2 separate regions of the Homo sapiens genome follow, and region 2 is linked to region 1. The links come from fine-mapping of genetic effects on gene expression. Tissue or cell type: gastroesophageal junction. Region 1 holds a variant in brackets; the other region holds the start of a gene. All regions are shown on one strand. Distances are between the middles of the regions. Region 1 overlaps VPS13A (vacuolar protein sorting 13 homolog A). Region 2 holds the start of VPS13A (vacuolar protein sorting 13 homolog A).

Region 1 (2,919 bases):
AGTTACAACAGTAACAGCAAAGATCACTGATCATAGATCATCATAACAGATATAATAATAATGAAACAGTTTCAAATATTGTGGGAATTACCAAAATGTGACACATAGACAGGAATAAATGCTATTGGAAAAATGGTGCCGACAGATTTGCTAGACACAGTGTTGCCACAAACCTTCAATTTGTAAAAAACACAATGTCTGCAAAGCACAATAAAGTGAAGTATGCCTGTATTTCAAGTAGACCCAGATACACTTAAAACTTGTTTTTAATACTTAACACTTTTCATAGTTGTCATAGCTATTGAAATAAGCTGAGATTAGCTAAATCTTTCATCACAGCTATCTTGACATACCCATAATTACTTTTGAGAATTTCATGATCAAACTATGTTTCCCCCAAGAGAAGTAACTACAACCCATTATTATTTCAGAATAACTTATTCAGGGTTCTCCTATCCAGACTTGGAGGACTCAGGTTATGATTCAAGACTAAGACAACCTGAACCCATCCCCCAAAGACTCTAAGCCCAGGCATTCCTAACAGCCCTAGGTCTTCAGAAAGTCTCCCACATTGAAAATAAAAGTAAAAGTCAATCTAATCTATAAATTAGAAATTCATTCTGGATTCAGAATGTTTACATTAACTTCAAGAGACTAACTCCCCTTAATCTCTCTAAGCTATAGTTCATCAATTTGTAAAAGAGTCCCTCTTGAAATATGTCATAATGCTAAAAGACAAGATTAATACAAAAATAATATCTCAAGATAGATAATTAAATGTAAAACTACTGGTAGAGACTAGAGATACCACAAAAATTAAGAGAAAAAGGGCTCTGTATAAGCAGAAAATTCAGAGACATTCATGCAAGCACTAAGACTTAAGTAGAACTTCAGGGATGAGTAGAATTGAGTAGGTAGAGAGATAAAGGCAGGTAGCATTTATGAGCATAGGCGTGGCTAAAAGAATGAGCATTAAATATACAGAGTACAGGAAACATTAAATTAGTGCATGGTCAGATTGTAACATAGGGAAAATGTAGTGGTGACACATAAAAGGCTTTGAAACCAACACAGAGAAGTTGGAATCAATGTAGCAAACACTATTTAGACTTTTGAGGTTAAAAATGACATAATCATACTATTTGCATGAACCCAAATTCCTTCCGATTGAGAATAATCTCGAATTTCAAAAGCTCACTGGAGAATTTCAACAAATCTTGTATTATTCAGCTGAAGTTAAGAACAGAAG[C/T]ACAAAAAAGTCTAAGTAAAAGAGATGAAAAGGTCAATAAAAATTGGAATGAAAGGTAGGGAGTATCAGTCACTGAAGACCAATAAGGAGCTATGTAGTATAAAACACTCAACAATTTCATTTTAAATGCTAACCTCCAAAGACACGAGAAGTTCACCAGGTGGCTTCTTACTTGTTAACTTTTTTTTATACAGTTCTTTATATTGCTTCACTTTTTGCCTATGTTTTCTAATATGCTTCCATGACCACATCCATAACCTGGGGCAAACATTTACTTCAAGAACGCCATGTATAGCATAAGCCCACCTAGTTAAAAAAAGAAAAACATTTAACACCCTCAAATCAACAGTATGAAACATTACTGACATTGCTTCTACTCTAACAACATACATAACTATAATACAAAGATTAGGAAAATGATATATTATCTGAGTACTTCCTTTTTACCCAACTCCATTTGCATTAATAATCCATTCAATATTAATCTTTCCTCTTTCTTAAGTGAAAATAAGCAAAATCACTCCATTTTGTTAAATATAGTTCTACACAAGAACTGTTAAGGCATTAATTGGCAAATAACATTTAGTCATCTGAATAATAACTGAAATAGTCAACTGAAAGAGTAATTGTAACTTCTAGAAACTAGGGAATAGCTTAAAAACTGGAATAACAAGACTTTTGAGTTTTAAAATGGGATTATCCTGCATAGACTCCGTAACATTTTTAGCTTTTAAAATACAGGTTTAATAATATTGGTTCAGTGTATCTGATAGGGAAGCTGAGGTGGGGGTTGGGGAGAGACAATGCAAGAAAACAAACCAGGATTTGTTTTTGTAATAATTCTAAATATACTGACCCGTCCATAGTAAATGAAAACTATGGTATTCGAGCATCTCGAGTTGTAAACTGTGTTAGCAAGAATCCCTTAAATCAGTTTCATTAACTCAATAAGCTAAAGCAGCTACATATATTTCTAGCTATAAATCAATTATGGTTTGTATCAGACCTTAAAAATGGTATATCTTAAAGATTATTCTTGAAGTCGAGAAATTTATTTTTATGTTGTATTTTTAAAATCTAAAAAAAAAAAAAAATCAAGGCATTTACCATTCTCTGGCATGGTGGTGAAGAGGCACATCAGGTTTGAACTTCCTATATGGCAGATTTTGTGCCATCATATCAACTGATTCAAGAAGCTCCATAATACTGAAATACTAAAGAATGGAAAATTAAAGCTCTTAAATGTATCACATTTTTTTGTTCAATTGCTGAAGATAAAAGTTACATTACTGACTTTTTAGGGAAATGCTACCATATAACATCATGAATTTTAGTGAAACATTTAAAATCTTAGTTTTGCTTTTATCAAACAATAATTCACAATTGAAAATTATATTAAAGAAAATCACCTGTGGTTTATTAAATTCAATTGCTATGTTATGTAACTCAATTTCCAAGTTTATTTTGGGGGCAGAAAAGTCAAAATCAGATCGGCGATTCATCACAAGTTTGGCATTAGCAGATATGGGACGAAATACTGAAAAATAATAAAAATGGAAAAAAAACTGAGTTATATTTCCAAAGTCTCAAGGCAATAAAGTGATGAAGTTGAAAACACTGATTTCCATTTATTTTATACCCCTTCTACAGTTCCCAGATGTTCACACTGC
Region 2 (2,919 bases), 44 kb after region 1:
CTGGAAGTGTGTGCACAGACAAGAATAAATTACTTTAAATATATATTTAAACACACACACTTCACACACAAAATTAACCCTCACTTTGGCCTGGGAAATTCATTTCACAAAGGAGTCTAATTTCTAGCGGGTGTTTAAAATAAACAAGCGCATAATGCAAAAACAGATGGAAACACTAAAAATGAGGCTCTCACTAAGGCAGAATACCACACTAAACGGACACAAGGAAAGCTCGGTCCTTCACCACCTAGGCAGCGTAGGGCCCTGTTCAGCCCGGTCTTTTGCAGGTCTGAGACGTTGCACCGCACGCCCTGGTTTTTCTTTAAAATTCGGCAATTCACTCTGACCCACATATCCTAAAGTCTTGAAAATGTTACACATTCCTAGGTCAGGCTGTTAACTGCAACCACACAAGCAACTGTTTGAGTTACTTTGCACTTGAGTTTCCTTTTTGTTATCCGCCGAACCCAGGCGAGAGAGAGCCGGCGTCCGGGTCCTAGGGCCGGAAGGGGGAGAGCAGAAAGCACCACGGGTGAAGCCAGGAATTGAGGCTGGGGAAGCAAGGAAGCGGGCGTCCCCGGTCACAGCGCCCTGCCTTCACGTGCGAGGCAGCATGCAACACGCGGGGGATTTCTGGGGCCTTCGTCATAAACCCAGGGGGGCAAAGGACAGGGATGGGACCCAGCCCAGGAAGGCGTCGTCTCGCCTCCTCGCCCCGCGCGGCTAAAGCCGGACCGTGCGGGGCCAGGGGTAGAGAACGGCCCCTCGCCGGGACTTGAACGCCAGACCCACGGAGCCCACGGCAAGTCCGCTCCGCTCGGAAAATATAGACCTTTTCATCCCGCACTCATGACCCTCTCCTTTCCCCCAAAATATAAACAACTCGAGGGCGGAGGCCAGGGAACTGCCGCCCGGCTTTACGTAACTTGACCCACAGGCGGGCGGCGGCAGGTGGCTGCACCCGGCGAGCAAGGTGCTCGAAGCCCCGAGAACGCAGGACGCCGCTCGGGCAGCGAGACGGCCGGGAAGCACGAGAGGCCGGGGAGCGGCGGCGGCGGCCTCCTTACCTTTCCAGATGCCCAGAGAGAGCTGGGACGTGTCCAAGTCCACCACATAGTCCCCCAAGAACCGGTTCAACACGTCCACGACCACCGACTCGAAAACCATGTTCCTCAGCCGTGGTGGGCACGGCAGCCGGCCCGTGCGCTCCTCCTCCCGCCGCCTTCCCCACGCCCCTCCCTCGAGGTAATTCGGTTCACCGGCTCCGGGGCGGCTTCAGCTGCGGCGCCCCCGCTGGCCCAACGCGCAGCCCTAGCGAGCCCAGCGAGAGACGGAGGCGGTCGCTCTCACGACGCGTGCGCAAGTCTGCGCGCGGCTGGAGGCGGAGCGCGGCGCAGACCTGGGCGCGCAGCCCTGAGAGGGAGGAAAGGCGGCTGCGCGGCCGCGGCTCTGGAGGGTGCCCTTTTCGCGCCGAGCCCGGCTCCTCTTTCCTGTCGGCCCCGCCTCCTCCCCATCGCCTGGCAACGGGACACCGGTCTGGAGCTACCGGATTTTTTCCGACCCCGCCCCCTCCTGCAGATCAGCGTCCCCAGCGGCCCCCCAGGGCGGGGCGGTTACGCCCGACGGGAACGCCCCTCCCCCTAGAAGGTGGTGGCCGCTTCCACGCGTATGACAGGGCTCGCCCCTGAGTAAGGGTGGGCGGATCCCAGCCCCGTCGCCAGAAGCTTCAAGGGGGCTGTCCCAGGGAGCATCTCCCCTCATCATTACAGGGTGGGAGGGTCCAGCCAGCCTGGGTGTCTTGGTGCCTGTAACCTCCCCGCCTGGTCCTCCGACCGCCTGGCTCTCAGGAGGAGTTAACTTCCTGCTGCGAGTCGAGGATGGAGTTACATAGTCCCTGCCCTGCATCTGAGATGAGCACCCATTTTTGGTCAAGTCATTTATACGGAGCTGTCTTTCATTCCAAAGAGTAACACGCTTCCCTGCAGATAAGAGTTGGAGTCAGCCGGTCTGGAAACTGCTGAACACCCTCCAAGAAATACTGGGAGTGCTGGACCCTTGACCCCTATGCCTCCACCGAACCACTGACCTAAAATAAATTACAATTACAGATCTTTCGACCTGTTTGGTCTTACTTAGAAGTAATCCCAAAGGCCTGAGGTCACAGAGATGCTAAATGTGAGGTTTAGAGAACTGTAATTAATCATCTGCAGGACCGAAAAAGTGTACATTGAGCGTTTTCTCTTTACACGTTAAATGAATAATGATGGATTTCTATTAATTCCTGTGTCATTTTACTACTTTTTGTGCATAGTCACCGACTTTTCAAAATTAAATGTTTAGGGTGTGCCTTTGCAAGTAGAATGCCTGACAAAAACTGTAAGTTTTTACCTGAGTTTATGAATGTTTTTCATATAATTTTATATTTGAAGGACCTTTATGAGGTCTCCAACCTCCTAGTCTTAAATATAATGAAGCTGAAGTGTTAGGGATGTGTGCAAGGTCATACAACCAATGTTCTGTGGAAGAACTGGAACTTGGCCCTTCTGATTGGCTACCACCCCACCTGCTTCTCTCTCATTCAGCTAACAGTCTGCTTCAGAATACCTGCACGGAGAAACGAATAGAGGCTAAAATGCCTAGGAAGGGGAAGAGCTCTACATAATGAGGCATTTTGCCATTGCACTATTAATAAGAAGCCAGATACACAGTAGCTGCAAAATTCCGCTGTTATATCTAGCGCTGCAAATTCAAAGTTACAAGAATTTCCAGAACTCCAAAAATCCATCTTAAGTATCTTGCAAACGTTTTCATATTAGTTTTCTACGATCTAGGAAAATTTTGTGGAAGTGAGGAAGGGGAAGGGATGTTGCTGAAAAGTTAGAGGTATAAGCATAAAGCAATGAAAAAAAATTCTGCTGA

Evidence for each region.
Region 2: VPS13A starts here. The variant in region 1 is fine-mapped to the expression of VPS13A in gastroesophageal junction (GTEx, PIP above 0.99). The same link has a PIP of 0.9 or more in esophagus muscle and prostate.

Annotation. Positions count from the first base shown.
Region 1 is chr9:77,219,821-77,222,739 of GRCh38, reverse strand. It overlaps VPS13A (vacuolar protein sorting 13 homolog A), which reads right to left. Exons shown (of 72, transcript NM_033305.3): 11 at 2,659-2,786; 12 at 2,357-2,463; 13 at 1,384-1,555. Among named protein-coding and RNA genes, the nearest start is that of VPS13A-AS1, 43 kb to the right of the region's middle. The variant C/T (reference allele first, on the strand shown) is at 1,250.
Region 2 is chr9:77,175,953-77,178,871 of GRCh38, reverse strand. It overlaps VPS13A (vacuolar protein sorting 13 homolog A), which reads right to left and starts at 1,338. Exons shown (of 72, transcript NM_033305.3): 1 at 1,068-1,338. The coding sequence starts at 1,167. It overlaps VPS13A-AS1 (VPS13A antisense RNA 1), which reads left to right and starts at 955. Exons shown (of 2, transcript NR_026668.2): 1 at 955-1,245; 2 at 1,966-2,116. RefSeq lists silencers at 173-342, 1,325-1,619, 1,381-1,710 and an enhancer at 1,325-1,619.